Regions from separate parts of the Homo sapiens genome. Here region 2 is linked to region 1. The links come from fine-mapping of genetic effects on gene expression. Tissue or cell type: cerebellum. Region 1 holds a variant in brackets; the other region holds the start of a gene. All regions are shown on one strand. Distances are between the middles of the regions.

Region 1 (10,960 bases):
AGTCCCAGCTACTCAGGAGGCTGAGGCAGGAGAATCGCTTGAACCCAAGAGGTAGAGGTTGCAGTGAGCCGAGATCGCGCCATTGCACTCCAGCCTGGGCGACAGAGCGAGATTCCATCTCAAAAAAAAAAAAAAACAAAAAAACAAAAAACAAACTGTTGAAGTGCTCTAGGTTATTGCCTCCAAAAGTAAGTAATCCCGCACAGGTTTTTTTTTGTTTTGTTTTGTTTTAAGTCTTCTTCATGTTATTTTTGTCACCTGACACACTATCAGATATTAACTATTATTATTTGTTGTGTACCTGCTTCAAACTGCCTTTTCTCCTCAATGTGCTACTTAAAAATCTGTTGTGATTTCAAAGGCGCATGACCAGCTTTGGCCATTCAATAGATATTCATATTCAACGTGTGGCCAGGTACTATGTAAAACACTGGTGATACAAAGATATATGATATATACATAGTTCTTATCCTCAAGGAGCTCTAGGTTTTGTGGGAGAAGCAGACATGGAGACAAATTGGCAGGCAATTATAATTCTGGTGTTGCTGGAAATATAGAGCTAGTACTCTTAACTCAGCCATGGGCTGGATGGAGTGAGTGACAGAGTGTGCATAAAGGAATGTTTCCTTGAGAAGGGTGCTAAGTACAGCCCTAAAAGATGTGCACTGGAACTACGTAAAATAACAGCTGTGTTTGAGGGCCAAAGGTAAGGCCTTCCCTTGGTAATTATTTTATGCTTATCTGTATGTACTATACGCACTGGCCTTTTTTTCTTACTTAGTGCTTGGTGCTCTGGGGAATTGAAATGTTTGGATTGCTCAGTTCTTGCAAGGTGCAGTGTCACTGTAGAGAGCTATTACATGCTCTTATGGGGTGGCTGGAGTGAGTGGTATAAAAGGACACTCCCATTTGTTCTTGTCTTCATACTGGAGTACTCCAAAGGGCTCTTCACAGCATCAGCCATGCAAAATGTGCTAGGACTTTTCCATTATCTTAAGGGGAATTTGTTCACTAGCTTCTCATTTACTCTTCCTATACTGGAAGTTATACCAAAAAATATTACAGAAACTTTAATAGTAAGATTTGGAAGATTACATGCTACAAAGCTGAATACGGCAATTCGTTACTTAATGTGCTGGAACCTAATAAAAGGGTTCAAAATACTCACAATAATCAACTGTTTGAACAGATAATTGTTAAATCTAAAATGCATGGAAATAACTAAGAAATGTAAGAAGAATATTAACAAGTATAACGGAATAACATCTATATTCTAAAACATCTTTCATATATGCTCTACATTTATTAATATCTAAAATATATTTAGCTTATAAAAAGTATCATACACTGAACTAGACACTGGGGGCAGAAAATAACATGATAATGAGACTGATCCTACCCTTGAGACAGGAAAATGAGATGGCTACACAAATAACACAGAATATGAAACATCTCAGAAGAGAAGTACAGATAAAATCTAGAGGAAGTAAACATTACTTCCAGCTAGGAGGGTTAGAGAAGGTTAATGAATGGGATGTCCTTCCTTCTGGGCTTGGAAAGAAGGATAAGCTTTGAACATGAGATTAGAGAGGAAAGAAGAGAGAGTATGGACTCTAGGTAGATATCACAGCATACATAAAGGAATTGGATTGGAAAACAGGGCGGATGAGAAGCAGTGGGAGAGAATGCTGGCTCAAATGCCAAGCCAAGAAAAGTGGACTTCATATAGCAGGCAGAAAGAAGATACCATTCATAACCAGAGATGTGACAAAGACAGACACATCTGGTAGCAATGGGGTAGAGTGTGTAAAATGTGCAGCTGCGGGAATTATTTCAGAGGGGAGCGCCTATAATACCACCAGAGAGGGGAGTTGAGCATATCAGATGTTGCAGAGTTAAATTCAACAGGATGTGGCTTTCCCAATGTGACATAAAGGGCGAGAGTCTGGGCATGTTGGTGAAGTGGGGCCAAAGTCAAATTTGAAGTGATTAAAGACAGTGAATAGTAAGGAAATTAAGGCAGCCAGCTCAGCTACTTCTACAGGCAGTCTGGCAGTAAAGAGGAGAGCATTTATCATTAAGTGTGACTTAAGTTAAAGATAAATGGCATTGAATGAGTTAGTAAGTAAATTATGAATAAAACTCATATCTTTTTTCTGCTGCAAGAACAATCAGCCCTTCTATGAAGTATAATACTGGTTCATTCTTACACCAAACTTTTAAAGATGTATGTATGGTTAATCATTATGAATGTGTCTCCTTTCTCTGAGATTCTTTTTTATATATGCCTTTAAGAAAAATTAAAACACAGAGAACTTTAACTGGCATGATTTTGAAACTGACCACTACACACATATGTATATTCCTGTTTTATCAGCCGAGATTACATGACAAAATAAAAATAAATCTATTTTCTATTCTATTTATTCTGATTTTTACACTTTTTATTAATCTACTTGCTTTGTTTTGAAACCCTCTACTAACTGAAAACTAAATAGTTTGCCTTAAAGGAAGATAATATATTGAGTCAGAGAAGCAGCTACAGGCCATGGGGTAGTAAAATTCAAATCTGATCCAAAGTTAGGTTTTTCTTTTCATTATATTCTCTAACAGTTCAATGACTAATGTACTTCTCTTCTGAGGAAAATCTGCCCCGCAAAAGAAGGCCTGCTGCAAGCTGCATTAAGAAGGCTGTCTTCCCCTGGGTGAGGGTGTGTAACCCACGGAGATAAGAAGCCACAGGGGAAACCACCACACAGGCCACTATTTTAGTATTCAGCTGCTCCAGCTGCATGGTTGTCCAAAATAAGCCCTTGGCTTTATTATTTTCAATTCCAATAACTACGTTTGGCTTTGCATTTGTACCTAAGGACCAGTTATTTTTCCAGAAAGTACCTAAAATTATCTCCTCAGGTCCTGGGCTGTGAACTCCGGTTAAATCACAAATGCATCTGGCTTTACGTAATGTCTACGGGTAACAGTCGGTGGAAACTGGAGCACTGATATTTTCAAATATTGGCAAGCCAGTTTAAAAAAAAAATCTATTAAAAGATGCATCTAAATTCCAGGTGCTTTTTGTTACCAAACAAATCTCAAGCTAAATTCATCCCTAATAAAAATGCTCCTAGCCCATGTAAATGGCATTTTCCCCTCTTAAACATCTATTCTTATTATCTCAAATAGTGTCCAAAATGGTCATCCCTCATGGTGAATAATCTATTCATCTGTAATGCAGAAGGAAAAAGAAAGAAATTTCATGTTTTTAATTAGCAATTGTCTAACGCCTAGATCCTTAGAATGCAGACAATGTTTCTTGAGGTGGATCAGTAATTGGTTAAAACTCAAGGTTAATGAAGCTACAGTCCTAGGTTTGAATGAGTCAGTCAACCTCACTCTAAGAAATCCTGTGCCATGAACTCAGAAGGTACCTCTGGCCCAGTTGTATTACAAATGAGTATTACCACTGGAAGGCCAACCATCATGTTACTATAGAAACAAACAAATGTGTATCCCCAAAATGGATGGAGATTGCTTTTGCTTTTCAAAGTTGTTTTCCCAAAACATTTTTTAAAATACAGAAAATAAAACAAAAAAAAGAAAGAAACCATTCCTCCCTGCCCCTGCTCAAGAAAGAAAAGAAAAAAGAAAGGAAAAGAAAACAAGGGGGAGGGAGAAGAAGGGAAGAGAGGGGAGGGGAGAGGAGGGAAGTTTGGTTATTTGATTACTAGCTAGGCTTAAAATTCTATGTCTATTTTCTCTAGTTTTTAATGCTTTAATTAATTTTTTAAATTTAATTTAATTACTAGTTCGTGTTGCCTTTTTTTCTATTGGAATGGCACTAATTTATAAAAGCTCTTAGTAAGTACGTTAATCTCTTATCTGTCATAATTGATGCAATTCTTCCCTTTTCTTTTAATTTCCTTTCTGAGTTTCATTTCCAGAATTTTAACAAAACACTTTCTACATAAAAATCGGGAGGAAAACATTACTGGAAGAAAAACCTCTATATTCAATTTGCTACAAAGTAGAATTTACTGGAATGTCCCTTTCTATCCTCTAGCTATCTTTCATGCAAAAAGCCGAAGGAACACTTTGAGAGTACTTGATAGCATGCAGAAAAACAAAAAGAAATCACTCCATTGAACATGTGGAGTTTCACAGTGCTCTAGGCAACTGTATAGCAAATAGTCATCGCACACATGCATACAGACGCTAGCCATAAATATTGTTTGGTAACAGAAGGGAGAATAAGCAGAGAGGCATGTCATTACATGAGATGACATGACTACTGGTTTAAATGTCTCCCCAAAACTGGAAAACAGACAGACACAAAACACAGAAACCATTAAAATGAGACATTTCTCAGCTTCATCACAGGCAAAACCAGATACATAAATGATGGGAATGTAACATGAGACAGACCAACAGCTGCAGAGAAAATAAAATAAAATAAGAACCTAGCTGATGAAAAGAAATATTCAAAAAAATCCAACTTGCAGAGTATTGGGGAGAGTATGTTTTTAATATAAAGTCTACCTCAGTGTATTATGAAACACAACCTTTTTCTCTTCTGTCACAGAGCACTAGTGACGTTTGGTGTTTTTCTCCCTTCCTTTATTCTTTTTCTTGTACAGAATCAATATGTATTTGCCTCTTATTTTCCTTTTCTTAGGAACAAGCGCCAGGACTGACTTAAGCATTACACAGATAGACATACCAAATTACAGAGAACAGGTATCTACTGTTCTAAAAACCTGGAAACAGAAAAAATGACAACCTAAAACTGATTTGCTCCTACCGCTTTTGAGAAAAGTAAAAACATAAAATATAATTTTATTCTCAAATTAGAATGAAAAATAGAATGCTCCCTGGTTCCTGAGAAATTTTTAAAACTTTTATATAATCACAATTTGTAATGGTTGAAAATTATTATTGGTACTTGAACTTTACTTCCTCCCACAAATAATAATAATGAATAATAATAATGGCAGCAAACACTCATAGAATCTTCATAAAACAACCAGCAATGGGCTAAATGCTTTACATGGTGTCTTAGTAAATTTTCACAACTTTGTGTTATTATCCTGTCTGTATCTAGAGATAAGAAAGTGAAGATTAAATCACTTAAGTCACTTGTCCAAAGTCACGCAGATAGACAGTGGCAGACCCAGGATATGAATTCAGGTACAACTGGTGCTGAAGCCTGAGTTCCTAACCATTGTTCTAAGGGCTTCTTACACTGGAAGGATCCCACAGCATTACTCACCCTGGGTTCACATAAAGCTTGTACCCAAGCATGTGTTCACAGGTATTTCCAGTTGGATTTCTTTCCATCTGTGTTGCCCTCAGTGGTCCAATCTTCCTTTTTCTTACCTGGATGATCATATCCCCCCAACCTGTCTCCTAGATGCCATCTCTCAGCACCCAATCTAACCCAAACTCTACACTGCCACCTGAGTCATCTTTCTAACACATGGGAATTGATCTGCTCCAGCTTAAAGATCACTAACACAAGGCATGACTAAAACAGATGAAGAAACTAATACCTAAAGATGGTAAGTGCTATTCCCTAGGTCATTTTTCTAGGAATTGGAAAATCTGCTGGTTTCTTAGCCTGTGCCTGAACTATGATTGACTACATAGTGTTAGAGTAAAAAGTAGCATTTTTGCTACTGAATTTAGAATCTCAGACTCAAGTATTTGGATGTCTATGATATTCTACCAAATGCCTATGTCCTCTACATACATGCTCAAATAATGTTTCAGCTTCCTTTTTCTTTGATTATTGTCGTTTGTTAATAAGGAGGAGATGGGAGGCGGAACCAAAGCCAGGAAGTTGGCAGCCACCAGCTTGCCTTAGTGCTGCCT[C/T]CATATGCTCACAAGGAAATCTCTGCACCTGGCCTAGCTTCTGTGCTGAGCCACAAAACAAACATGAATGCTTACTTTTTTTCTTTCTTGAGAATTAAGAGAATATGCTTCATTACATATATTTAATAAGTCATGCTATATAATCATATAAAATATATATCATAACTCTATATTGTGTGCTAATAATTTTATATATAATAGCTTTAATCCCCTAATAGATTGAACACTACCCCATTCCTATACTTATTCTATTCTATGTTCTTATTAAAATAGCAGAGAAATGTGGCCAGGCACGGTGGCTCATGGCTGTAATCCCAGCAGTTTAGGAGGCTGAGGTGGGCAGATTACCAGATGTCAGGAGTTTTGAGACCAGCCTGGCCAACATGGTGAAACCCCATCCCTACTAAAAATACAAAAAAATTAGCTGGGCATGGTGGCAGGCTCCTGTAATCCCAACTACTCGGGAGGTTGAGGCAGGAGAATCACCAGAGAGGCGGAGGTTGCAGTGAGCCAAGATTGTGCCACTGCACTCCAGCCTGGATGACGTCAAGAGCAAAACTCCATCTCAAAAAACAAACAAACAAACAAAAATATATATATGTATGTATATTACAAATTAGCCAGGTGTGGTTGTGGGTGCCTGTAATCCTAGCTACTCTGGAAGCTGAAGCAAGAGAATCGCTTGAAACTGGGAGGTAGAGACTGCAGTGAGCCAAGATCGTGCCATTGCACTCCAGCCTGAGCAACAAGAGCAAAACTCCGTCTCAACATAAAATAAAATAAAAATATAAAATAAAATAAAATAGCAGAAAAATGGAAGGTGTTCAATAGTTGACCAATTCCTAAACTGTGCTGAAATACATCCTGTCACTAGATATGTATGGTATTACAAACAGAGCGACTATTTAACCAACACACCAGACCTGTCTACATCAGGGATAGGAAAATGCAGTCTGCAGGCAAAATCCAGCCCACTGCCTGTGTTAGTAAATACATTTTATAAACACAGCCGTGCTTGTTAGTTTATGTAATGTCTATGACTGCTTTCATGCTACAACAGCTGAGTTAAATAGTGTAACAAACTGTACAGCCTGCAAAGCTGAAAATATTTACTGTCTGGCTCTTTACAGAAAAGGGTTTGCTGACCCCTGGTTTACCTTAAATAAAAGCAATGCTTCTCTGGTATTTTCTACTAAAGTCCTTCTAATGGCAGAAGAAAATAAGAATATATTTCAGGGGAGTTATGAGCCCCGCTTAAGAAGCACAGGTTTAAATGACCGTTTGTCCAGTTACATCATTTGGGAAGTCGATCAGTATCCCAATGATGCTGCCATTCCTCGAAACTTTATAAAAATCCTAAATATAGCCTAGCATACCTTCTTTTCAATATTCTCAACTCTGGTAAATATTATTATTTCAAGGGTAGATTTACTTTTTGTAACATGCAAACTGTGTATAGCCCAAACTAGTACCAGCATTAAGTAGTCAAATTGGGTATTTCTGGTTTTTATCATGGATAAATTATAACTACCTATTAATGAAGTGGGTGTTTCTATATGAGCATTGAACTGGTTCAGATATCAAGTGTGATGGTGAGATTTTGTGTGTCAACTTGGGTAGACTACTGCCCCTAGCTATTAAACCAAACACTAAGTATTGCTGTGAAGGTATTTTGTAGATGTGATTAAAATACACAATCCATTGACTTTAAGTAAAGATTATCCTAGATAATCTGGGTGGGCCTGGTTCAATCCATTCAAAGGCCTTAACAGCAGAGCTGAGGCTTCTCTGATAAAGAAATCTGACCTGCAGACAGCCGCTTCAGCTTAGACACAAGAGTTCCAGCCTGCCCTTCCTGATTAATGGCCCACCCTACCCATTTCAGACTTGCCTAGCCAGCCCCCAAAATCCTGGAACCCAACTCATTGCCTCTCTCTCTCTCTCTCTCTCAATCTCTATTTCTCTCTGTCTGTCTCAGTGTATGTGTGTGTAGCCTACTGATTCTGTTTCTCTAGTGGAACCCTGGTATATCAAGTCTAAAAATGTTTCAAAAATAATTTTAGTCATCTTTTACAATTGTCATTTTAGAGAATACCAATTCCTTGGATAAAAATAGCTAGCTAGAAATGAAACTCATTACTGTACAGTCACTATTATATCTGAATTCCTCATTCACTCTGGCAAAACATAAATTCTAAAAGAATCAAATCATGTTAAACAAAAACTACTTTAGAGTACTGGTTTCATTTCAGGTGTCATTGAAGTCATAAAAATCATTATGTCTCAGATAAACTATGATAGTAAAAAGATGAATGAAATGATTAAAATTTCTGCTACAGGTCGTGCCAAATCACACTTAAAATAATTTCTATAAAAATAATAAAGGAAATGATTAACACATTGAAAAAATTTAATAAATTGTGGGGAGGCATCCAAAGGTTTCCTGGATCTAAAACATCAAAAAGATGAATAATTTGAGAAGCATTTAAAATTGAAGCATTCAGACCTGCCATGCATATATTATTATCCTGGCCTTAATAAAGATTAATAAGAATGAGAAGAAGTTCTTAGGGCCATGTTAGGTACCTACTATGAGCACACTAAACAGTAGCTATTACAGTTTCTACATGTTAAAGTCCAAATTTTATTCTAGTCATATAACTATTGTTTTAATCAACATTTGAGGTAATACCCTTTTATATTTTCAAGTTATAATTTTTGCTTTTATTTGGAAATAAAATAACTAATATAATTTATTTTCTCTTCCTAGAGTGAGGTCAGCTAAAAACAAGAAAGAAATTTAAAGCATCCTGGGAAGTCATCATACCCTTTTTCTCCAAGAAAATCTAGTTTTGCTTGTTTTTGTGTATCCCACAACACCTGTGTTTGACTATCTTTTTCACTTTGGATTTGGATTTTGGTGTGATATACACAGTTCCAAAAAATCAATGGATAGAAAACTCAATGGCATAAATAAGGTTGGTATTAAAATATGCACAATAGGCTTCCTCTGCACAAATATGGTGATTATTAATATATATTCAACCAAAATATTTAAGTACCTAAATGCAGAATGTTTAAAGCTAGATTATCTATTTAAATTAAAAGCCTGAAATTTGGAATCTTCAAATTTACTTGCTGAAGTCATTCTGAAAATCTGATGGGTTCTTTCTCATCCACTCATCAATCCCATAAGTTCATACATGTGAATTGAGCATATTTTTGTTGTTCTTTAAAAATCACTACACACGTGGGAATTTAGCCTAAGGAGATAATAATAGGCATGTAAAAATATTTATCTTCAAGGATATTCAGCAAAAATATATCTATAAATATATTATTTGCAAAAGCAAAAAAACCTAAAAACTAAATATACAACAAGAAAAATGGTTAAATATTAAATATCTATATGATAGAATAGTATGCAGCCATTAAAAATCAAGTTATAAATGACAGGAAAATGATCACTCCATTTTAGTTTAGAAAGCAAATTATATAAGTGTGTGTAGTTTGACATCTTTTGTTTAAAGTGTATAGATGATACGTTAGCTATCTGTATAGGTACACAAACATAAGGACAGTTTCTGTAACATGTATCACTGAAAAATGGAATGACAAGCGGATCACGAGGTCAGGAGATCGAGACCATCCTGGCTAAAACGGTGAAACCCCGTCTCTACTAAAAATACAAAAAATTAGCCGGGCGTAGTGGCGGGCGCCTGTAGTCCCAGCTACTTGGGAGGCTGAGGCAGGAGAATGGCGTGAACCCGGGAGGCGGAGCTTGCGGTGAGCCGAGATCCCGCCACTGCACTCCAGCCTGGGCGACAGAGCGAGACTCCGTCTCAAAAAAAAAAAAAAAAAAAAAAAAAAAAAAGGAATGACAAACATTCCAATAGTGCTCAACTCCAAATGGTAGAACTGTAAGTGATTTTTTTTCTTCACTACAGACTTGAAATTTTCTACTCTATGTACTAGTGGTGTATTTTAATCAGTGGAAGAAAAGGTTTCTTAAGCATGACATAAAACTAGAATCCATTAAGTAGTTGTCTTTGGAGGATAGAATTACATGGAACTTTTATTTTACACACTTTTTCCATTTTCTCTAGTCTTAAATATTTTTAAACACACTTGTTTTATTTTGGTAACAAATAAAAGCATATATAGCTTTAAAAACAAACAATACAGGCTATTTTCTAAAGCAGGAATTTAGGGGAATTTTCAAAAAATATTTCAGTTTTATTTCAGTTAAAACAAGTTATTTAAGAATAAGTTGACAGAATAATAGCAGCAACAACATCAAGAAGAAAATCCTCCTGTCTTAAAAAGTTTTTCTAAAAGAACCAATGAGAAAAAGTATTTATATGTGTATATGTAACCTGAATTCTAGTTTTAGAAAGATAGTACATGAACATGAAACAATTTTTACAGTTTGCTACAATCACAAAATCCTGTATGAAATTATAGTTGTCCCTCAATACCCATGGAGGACTGGTTCTAGGAATCCCCTCACCCTGTGGACCCCAAAAGCAGAGGATGCTCAAGTCTGTTACATAAAATGTCATAGTATTTGCTTATAACTTATGCACATCCTCCTGTATACTTTAAACCATATCTAGATTACTCATAATACCTAATACAATATAAATGCTACATAAATAGCATTTACTCTATTGTTTTACTCTATTGTTTAGGGAGTAATGAGTAAAAAACAAATGCTATCCATGTTTAGTACAGACGCAACCATGCATTTTTTTCAGAATATTATTTTCAATATGCCATTGACTGAATGAATCTGCAGATGTGGAATCTGCAGATTCTTGGGGCAGACGGCATTTGTTTCAGTGCATTTGTGACTACATATGAATAACACATAGATTTATTGAAGAACCTAAAAGAGAATGAGAGGCACTTAGGAAACCAACAACTCTGACTTAATATGAGCAGAATGCACCCAAGCACTATCCTCCAACCTTCAGTGTCACAGTGGGCTGGTGTCATGACTTAATTGCTGAGTTACAGCTAATTATAAGGTAAATGAAACACTAAAAGAGAATTCACCCCAACCAATTAACTGAGTGGTTATTAATTGTAC
Region 2 (9,359 bases), 130 kb after region 1:
CTGGGAAACCAAAAATTTCATGGGACTCACTTTATTGCAGTGGCCGGGAACCAAACTTGCAATATCTCCAAGGTAAGCCTGTCTTTTCTGCAGCTGAAAGGATCAGAAGGCAGCATGCCAGCTGGTCCTTGATAGATGGGTGGGATTTACAGATAGGGAAGAACATTTTAGACAACAGGCACAACAGGGGCAAAAGACCTATGTAAACTGCAACCAGACCCTCTAGAAGGGAAATCCAATTTTATGTAAATTTTAAGTAAATTAAAATCTAAATGTTAAGTAAATTTAGAGCAAAAATTCTCAACATGAAAAAATGCCAAAACTGAGCTGCAGCCTAAGTTCTATATCACGTCAACAATATAAGAGTTTTACATCTGTATTCATGAGCTTAATTAACACAAAAAAAAGTCTTCTAAATAACTTGACCAGGCACGGTGGCTCACACCTGGAATCCCAGCACTTTGGGAGGTGGAGGCAGTAGGACTGCTTGAGCCCAGGAGTTCAAGAACACAGGGGACCCTGTCTCTACAAAAAAAAAAAAAAAAAAAAAAAATTAGCCACGCACTGTGGTGTGCACCTGTAGTCTCAGCTACTAAGACTGAGGTGGCAGGCTGAGACAGGAGGATTGCTTGAGCCTGCAGGTTGAGGCTGCAGTGAGCTGTGACTGCACCACTGCACTCCAGCCTGGGTGACAGAGTGAAACCTTGTCTCAAACATAAGTAAATAAATAACTTTAAGCCTAGATCAGGCTATTACATTTGTTTTCCAAAAGGAATGAAAACGGATTTCAAAGATCTTTGAAAACTTGCTTTTCAGCAAATAGAAAAAGAATTGGAAAATCACTTATGCTGCTTTTTGCAAAAACAGCAAAGTTGCCCGTTTTAGGAAAAGGTGTTTAAATTCAGCAGCAAAAAACTTTATAACATAGGGTAGATGAGAAAGTGCCATCAACACCACTGTATAAGTTATGGTACTATTTTTTAAGACTCACCTATTTTAATAATATCCTGCATGACTGTGCCAATCTACAATTAATTTTCTGCCCTTTGGAAAAGTATTGCTTTATGATATTAATTCACTTGAAAACTGACAAGTAATATTATTTGGGGTCTTTTAAAAACCTTGTTAAAATTTCATTCTATTTTCAGTAAATCATAAAACTATTTTAACACTATTGTATCCAAATCAAGAGCAGAGCCTCAAAAATCAGTTACCAGCAGCTGGGCATGGTGGCACACACCTGTAGTACTCGCTACTAGGGAGGCTGAGGTGGGAGGATCCCTTAAGCCCAGGAGTTCAAGCCCAACCTAGGTAACATACTAAGACTCTCTTAAAAAACAAACAAAAAAAAAAACTATTATCAAAGCTAGCCACTATGTACTATTCCTATTATGTTCGTTTTCTCCCCTTTCTTTTTTAAAATTCATTTTCATTACAAGATGTGATTGCCAATGTTAAGGTTTCTCTGTATGGTCTAAGAGAATACTGTGGAATTCTTTGAACTATATCCCTACCCTAAATGGCACTGGCTCAATGCAACGAAGGTCACACGAGCCAAGCTGGTGGGAGTAGGGAAGTAGTATACCTCAAAAACAGCATTCAAAGCATTTTTACTTGGAAAACTACACGATGTAAGAGCTAAAAACGGTATGGTTGTTCATCAAAGTCCTTTTCTTTTATTATTTTAAATTAAATTCCACGATTAGCTCTTCTCTGAATCTGACCTGCACTTTCACAACTTTGTCCCTTTGTTTGGGAGGTCCACCTCTGAGTCCTCAATCATGGAATTCTCCTCATCCTCTTAGGCTCAATTCAAGAGAAGCTCTCACAGCCTTGCCCAGCCCCATCTTGCATATGGGAAGTTGTATTCTTGTAGTAAACTCCTTATTTACCCTGGGTTTTACAAACTCATTCATCTTTCTTATCATAGCACCTGTTATAGTACATTAGGAGGCATCTAAATTAAAAAAAAATCGAGTTAAGCTCATTTACCATAAAATATGATCAAATGAGGATTAAAATTGTCACAGATGGTCAAGATATTGAGAAGATACCAAGCAGATATCCAAGAATGACTCCAGAACACTTTTAGCAGATTCCATCCCCCTACAGGTACAGAGCTGGGCCTATGGAAGCCCTGGCTCCTGGCTGCCTGATTGTGATGGTGTCTTTGGCTTCCTTGAGGAGGAAGGGAGGCCTGCGCCATCTGCAACTCCCTAAAAGCAGCTCCAGATTCAGTAACCTCTCCAGGAACACACTTGCCTTCATCACAGGAAGAGTAAGCACCACAGGGCTGAAGAACAGCAAAGTTAGTCCCGTTAGAACTCTTTTAGACCTCCCTGCAAGGACAAGTTAGACCAGGCTAGCTCCTGCCTCCCCTCTCAGGGGTGCTGGCTAATGACTTCTTTCTCCCTGGGCCTTCCTTGCCAATAACTTCAGTACAGAAACTTTTTCCCAAAGGGGAGGGGAATTGGCAAGGAAAGGAGGGAATTAAGTTGACAACAACCTTTTGGCAGTTTTCCTACTATAACTTCTCACTGTTACTTAAAAGGGAAGAAAATAGGCCTCTAATGTCTGCAACTGTTTTTTGAAAAACCTAAACTGTTCTAGGGTGGTTTGTGGCTATAATTTCATGTCTCAAAATTAATGCCAAAGTCCTCCTCCCACCCCAGATCCTGCTACCCTCTCATAAAAACAGCAGAGAGGTGAGTGCTCTCTGTGTGCTTCCCCTTTTATCTTTCTTTATGACTGAAATGAGCATGAAACCAAACTGAAAAGTCCAGCATCATCAGGTCTTCTATCATGTGTCTAGCAAGGTACAGCCCGGATGGCACGTTCATCTTCATATTTTCGCTATCTCTTAGAACTGCCCCTACACAAATTAACAAAGGCATCTCTGAGAAATGCTAGATTTAAATTGCTAGAAGACCTAACAATGCCCTTCCTTAAGAAGTACACATTTTCCCAGTAGATATTTTGCTTCTTGCCTGATCTGCACAGAGCACTGGATGTGACACTTACACATATATACATGGGTAATTATTTAACCTGATGAAAATGTGATATACAAATGTATATCATGAAATAAAATTTTAAGTGTGTAATAAGGAGAAACATTAATATTTTAAAAACTAGTGTGTTTGAAAATCCCAAGTGCAAAAGTGTTGAAAGGTGGGACCTGTGAGTGGTAATTAGGTCATGAAGGCTCTGCCTTCAAGAATGAATTAATTTTGTTATTGAGGGAGTAGGTTTGTTATAAAAGTGAAAGTGGGCCCCCTCTTGTTTTCTCATGTTCTCTTACCCTTCCACCTTCCACCAAGGGATGACAGCAAGAAGGACCTCCCCACATGCCAGTCCCTTGATCTCAAGACTTCCCTGACTCCTGAACTACAAGAAATAAAATGTGTTCTTTAAAAATTACCCAATCTGTGGTATTCTGTTACAGCAGCACAAAACAGACTAACACTGTTACCAACAAATACGTAATTCCATTAAAACATATATTCAAACAACTTCTTAAAGGTATAGAACTTTGAGACCAGAAGGTATCCTGGAGACATACTTGTCTAAAGCGAAGAAGACAATATTGCGACAAGCAGCCATCCAAAAAGATGAAAAGCGAGAAAGCCATGGTCTTTCCGATGACAGACTCAAAAGGGCTGAGCAGCACCTATTCAAATGGTGAGACAATTCTAGAGTGCTGAATCCTATCCGCCTCCCAGGGACACGATCCCGAGGGATACTACAAAACAAATGTAAATATGAACATGAGTTCAAGTTAGTAATCAAAATACTTAAGTTAGTATCTGAAAGGTACAAGTTTCCTAACAAAATGAGTACATTATCTCAAGCGTTTTAAAAAGCGTTTTAATGCAGCTAAACACCTGAGGAAAATGCATTTCCAGACTTGCACTCCCAGAGTATGGAGATTAACAAGGGAAGATATATATGTGTACATATGTATATATCTTCAGGACTGTAAGAATTTCCCAGTACTGTGAAATTAAAATTTAAAACAAAAACAAAAACACTCTACCTTGAAATTTCCAGATTTAAAGGACTGTAACCCTTAGCTCGAAATTTACTTTGTGTTTCGGAACTCTCTGGAGTGTTAAGGCTCGTGTGTTTTCTTTGCGGGTGTTTTTTTAACGACTCAGTGGGCTGGCTCCAAGTTTGTGAAGATCCTGTTAATTACCTCCTGCATTTACCACCGACCAAGGATGGGAGGCACGCGGCACTTGCTGAGCATATGTAGCTTTACAGGGAAGGGAGACGAGCAAAGATCACTGAAAACTGCAACCGAAACCCTCAGAAATTCCAGCTCTCCCCTCTTCCCTCCGGTCCCTTCGACAATCCATTTGGTGACCTGACACGTCATCCATACACTCCCAAGAGTGCCTTCGGGAACCCCTCTCCCCACTACCCAACCAGAGAGACAGCCCCACGCCCGGCAAGACGCAACTCCGGGCCACGGAGGGCGCCGCCCGGACAGCCCGGCCGGGTCAGGGGGCTTCGCCGCCGAGCACCCTCCGGCAGCCGCCCTCGGGCCTCCGCGGCCGGGCGGGAGGGCGCCTCCCCGACCACACTTCGGCCGCTTGGCACCCACAGCCGGGAGGGCGTGAGGAAGGACTCGGTCTAACTCCGGGGAACCCTCGGAGTTCCGGCGCAGACACCCGAGGGGGTGTCCTGGGAACTCCTTCGCCCGCGACACCCGTTCTTCTCCGTCTCCCGACCACCAGCGACGCAGCAGGGCGGCTGCCGGCCCGGCCCGGCCCGCCTTGCGGGCTGTGCGCGGCGCAGCTCTTCCTCCGCGGGGCCGTGAAGGCCACCGGCCGCCCCCGCGCGCCCAGCTGCCCGGCCCCGCCGCCTAAGCCGCCGCGTTGCTGGCGGGTAGCCGCGGGCCTCCGGTGCGCGGGCCCCGGCGCGTCCCCGAGCGCGCGCCTGGCCGCGGCCCCGCGCGAGTTGCACTAACTTTCCGGGGCGGGGGAGGGGTGGGCGCCGCGGGCCCGGCTCCCAGGCCTTACCTGTGCTCAAGTTGTCGTTGATTTTCAAAGGCACCCGCAGGATGTAGACCAGGAATAGCACGATGAAGAACCACACGGTCCACAGATACGTCCAAGACCAAACTATGCAGGACTTGAGCTGCTCCAGAAAGCCCGTGGCCGCTTCAGCCATGTTTCAGCGCTCCTCTCTGCTGCCGCGGCTCTTGGTGTCTGCCGGGATGATTCACCGGCCCGGAGGCGCAGCTCGCGCCGCCGCCGCCGCCGCGGCCCGGGCGCCCCCGGAGCCCGCCCGCCGCCGGGGACGCGGGCTCGGCGGGAAATCGCGCGGGCCGCGGGCGCGCCGGCTTTTCCTTCTCCAGCCTTATTGCTAACTCTCTAAAGGTCCCTACAAGTGGCTTTCGTGGAGCGATCACGTGGCCCCTGCCCCCTCGCGTTCTGGGTCCATTTATATTTATTATGCTAATATTTAGAAAGAGAAGGCCAAGTGGCGCGCCGAAGGAAACGCCTCAGGCAGTTACAACCCGCATAAGTTGAGCGTTTACCACACGCCAGGCGCTGCTCCACGATCCGTACAATCTCATTTAACCCCTGCAACAATTCCCCACTACGATCCTCTTTCTATAGGTAGGGAAACTGAGGCTCACAGCAGCTGCGTAGTTTACCTTAAGGTGGAACCAAAATTCAATTGCAGTGGTGTATTCTGGGGTCCGAGGTCTTAAACCCTACTCTGCTCCCTTATCAGGATTCAGGCTCAGGGAATGAATAAACCCGGGACAGCTAGGAGAAGGGAGGAGGTGCGCTCCTGTCGCCGGCTAGTAGGCCTGAAGATAAATCACTCTATTCAGCAAGATTTGGGTGGCAGATGCTATTTACCTTTGTTCTGTCTCTTTGAAGCAGCGCAGGGATTTTCCAGAGAAATCTTGACAGATGAATGTTTATCCTCCAGGTTTTTTGGTGATCAGAGGTCAAACTATTCTCAGCCTGTTTTTAATATAAACAATTCTCTGGGATAATTTTGACTGTGAAACGGCCACCTCTAACAGAAAGTCCATTTTAAACATTGTTTTGTTGTTTTTGTTTTGTTTTGACTGTGCTGAATAAAATGTTTCTTTTATTCTAAAATGTTTTCTCAGCTGAAATTTTCAAGTCTGTTTCTGTCCGTAAGTGATTTGACTTTCTATGTATTAGATGGTAATGAGGAAATTGCAGGTTTTCCAGTCTACATCTATTTTTAAAATTCTGAGCATAAAGAATATTTTATTATAAATTGTTTTGCTTACTTGTATAATAGTTTCCTTCATAATTAAATAAGCTCCTTTAACTTTTCACATATAGGGCCTATTACGGCATACATAATGGATGGAACTACTCTTAAATTTTTACTAATTCCAGCCTCTCTCGGCTACTGTTTCTTCCTCACATTTGATCTACTACAGTGAGATCCAGGCCAGAATAAGTGAAATTGGCACACATAGACTTTCTTTATAGTTATTTATGGCAGCACATGACCAAATGATTTTTGTGTCTAACACTGATACATGGAATCTCAGTAAAATAAAACAATATTGTCACCAGTAAAGGATCGTGACTGCAGGTTGTCCAGGTTCTTGGCGTTTTGAACAAAGAATTGGACAAAACACCCAGAGAAGCGACAAAAGAACGAAAGCAGGGATTTATTGAAAACGAAAGTACACTCTACATTGTGGGAGCGGGCGGAGCAGCGGCTCAAAGGCCGAATACAGAATCTTCTTGGGTCCAAATACCCCCAAGAAGTTTCCCTTTGGCAACTCATGCTCATCTCACGTAAATGAAGTGGTAGCCCGCAATCAGTCTGACTGGTTGCAGAAAGCAGCCAACCAGAGGCTGAAATGAAGATACAAAGGTAACACTCCTGTGCAAACATCTGATTGGTTGCAAAAAACAACCAATCAGAGGCTGGGATGTACTTAATGAAGTTATGCTTCTATGCAAACGAAGACTCGCCCACAGTCTGATTAGTTGTGGACAACAACCATTCAGAGGCTGGAGTGAAGTTACAAAGTTGCAAATGAAGATTGGACCCGCAGTCAGTCTGATTGGTTACAGACAGCCAATTTCCCATCTACTAGGCAGAAAAGGTCAAAGGTAGCCTCTGGTCCTTTTGTTACTTAGGCGTGGAAAGTTAGGGTTTTCCTTTCAATGTAGTTCAAGGAAGTCCTTAGTTTCCCTGCCTCCAGAACCTAGTCTCCTGCCTCAACATGAGTACATGAACCACCTATTTTATGTGATGATTAAATAACCCACCAGATTCTCTGCGAGTCACTGAATTAGGATATTGACTACTTAATTTAAATGAACATCCGGAGGCCTGGCTTTTTGCTGTCAATGAACTTCAATGAATGGACATGAATATGACTCCGCTAAGTCACAATCTTCTAATTTTCTACTAGGCGCTCCTGGGAAGTCAGCCCTATATCATTGCCTCTCCTGGTGTGCATCCTGGCATGTGGTGGGGACTGTACACATGCCTTTGTGCTTCAAAACACTTCAAAACAGAAGTGAGTAAGCATAATCTCTTGCAAACTGTGGCTGCTTCAGTATAGCTGGAGTGCAGCCTCTGCAGAGTGGTGTGGATACAGACAAAGCTAAAGATACAGGCCTGAGTCATTTTGAAGGGCCTACTAGAAACGCTAAGGTGTTCATAGTTATGGGGCATTGCACACACCAATCCAAATGACCAACTCAGAGATTTATTTAAGTGGAGATTTAAGAAATATTAAGGAAGTAGATGGCTCACGCCTGTAATCCCAAAACTTTGGGAGGCCGAGGTGGGAGAATCACTTGAGTCTAGGAGTTTGAGAACAGCACAGGCAACACAAGGAGACCTTGTCTGTACAAAAAGATTTTAAAAATTAGCTGGGTGTGGTGGTGTGTGCCTGTACTACCAGCTACTCAGGAGGCTGAGGTTGGAGGATCACTGGAGCCTGAGAGTTTGAGGCTTTAGTGAGCTGTTATTGTGCCAGTCACTCCAGGGTGAGACCTTGTCGAAAGAAAGAGAGAAAGAGAGAGGAAGGAAGGGAGGGAGGGAGGAGGGAGGAGGGAGGAAGGAAGGAAGGAAGGAAGGAAGGAAGGAAGGAAGGAAGGAAAAGGGGAAGGGAAGGGGAGCGAGAGAAAGGAAAGATAGAGAAAGAAAAGAAAGGAAGAAAGAAGAAAGAAGGAAGGAGAGAGAGAAAGAAGAAAAAGAAAGGAAAGAAGGAGGAAGAGAAAAAGGGGAAGGGGAGAGAAAGGAAGGGGAAAGAAAGAAAGAAAGGGAGAGAAAGAAAGAAGAAAGAGAAAAGGAAGGAAGAAAGAAAGAAAGAGGGAGAGGGGGAAGGGAAGGAGGGAGGGAGGCGGGGAGAAGGGGAAGAAGGGAAGAAAGAGGCAGAGAGAGAAAAATAAAGGGAAGGAAGGAGTGAAGGAAGGAGAGAAGGAAGGGAGGAAGGAAGGGAGGGGAGGCAGAAGTGACAGGCCTTGGTGACTGATAAGACAGGCAGGGCAGGCCTGGCGCAGTGACTCACGCCTGTAATCCCAGCACTCCTTGGGAGGCTGAGGCAGGCAGATCACTTGAGGTCAGGAGTTTGAGACCAGCCTGGCCAATATGGTGAAACCCTGTCTCTACTAAAAATACAAAAATCAGCCGGGCATGGTGGCACGCACCTGTAGTCCCAGCTACTCGGGAGGCTGGGGTAGGAGAACTGCTTGAACCTAGGAGGTGGAGGTTGCAGTGAGCCGATATTGCACCATTGCACTCCAGCCTGGGTGTAGCAGTGAGATTCTGCCTCACACACACACACAAAAAAAAACAGGCAGAGCACGGATAAGGGGGGGGCTCTTGAGTGGGACCGTTAATGAAATAATGACACCCCAGATATGCCTAACTACCTCTTGATAATCACCCAGTGGAATGGCACACAATCACCAAGCTCATCACATGCAGAATGGAATGCATTACCTCTTCACCCTCATCTGTTCCTTTTAGAGTTCCATCAAGGAATGGGCACCATCCTTCCAGTTCCCTAATTCAGAAATCTGAGCATCATGTACCTCCTTTCCTCTCTATATTCCACTGTACATCAAGACTCAGGCCGCCACTTCTCTCAGCCTTTGGTGATAGCCTGATCATCATTCATAGAGAACAAGGCAGTGGGCTCCCTGCCTCTATTTGCACCACGGCAAGCACCACCACTGCCTCCTTCCATCCACTTTCCACACTTCTCTACCAGTTACCTTTTAAAGCACAAATCCGATAACTCGTTCCTTGCATAAAATTATTTAAGGCCCCACCCCTACTGCACTCCTACTTTTATCCCAGTGTCTAACTAAAGGATGGAATCTAGA

Alleles and levels. Positions count from the first base shown, and alleles are read on the strand shown. Sizes are in standard deviations (SD) of each study's normalised expression.
For the expression in cerebellum of the gene that starts at base 5,215 in region 2, T is the low allele of the variant in region 1 and C is the other (large effect, 0.79 SD a copy in GTEx).

The links. PIP is the estimated chance that this variant, and not a neighbour inherited with it, causes the effect.
Region 2: it holds the start of ST7, and the variant in region 1 is fine-mapped to the expression of ST7 in cerebellum (GTEx, PIP above 0.99). The same link has a PIP of 0.9 or more in cerebellar hemisphere.

Annotation. Positions count from the first base shown.
Region 1 is chr7:117,078,751-117,089,710 of GRCh38, reverse strand. All of the region lies in intron 1 of ST7 (suppression of tumorigenicity 7), which reads right to left. It also overlaps a transcript of ST7-AS2 not described here. Among named protein-coding and RNA genes, the nearest start is that of ST7-AS2, 61 kb to the left of the region's middle. The variant C/T (reference allele first, on the strand shown) is at 5,869.
Region 2 is chr7:116,949,357-116,958,715 of GRCh38, reverse strand. ST7 (suppression of tumorigenicity 7) reads right to left here and starts at 5,215. Exons shown (of 16, transcript NM_001369598.1): 1 at 5,025-5,215. The coding sequence starts at 5,175. It overlaps ST7-AS1 (ST7 antisense RNA 1), which reads left to right and starts at 4,382. Exons shown (of 1, transcript NR_002330.1): 1 at 4,382-6,270. ST7-OT4 (ST7 overlapping transcript 4) reads right to left here and starts at 4,868. Exons shown (of 5, transcript NR_002329.2): 1 at 4,607-4,868; 2 at 4,037-4,255; 3 at 3,563-3,742; 4 at 1,993-2,293. RefSeq lists silencers at 2,603-2,862, 4,460-4,759, 4,820-5,019, 5,230-5,299, enhancers at 4,221-5,144, 5,560-5,669 and a cis regulatory region at 8,333-8,658.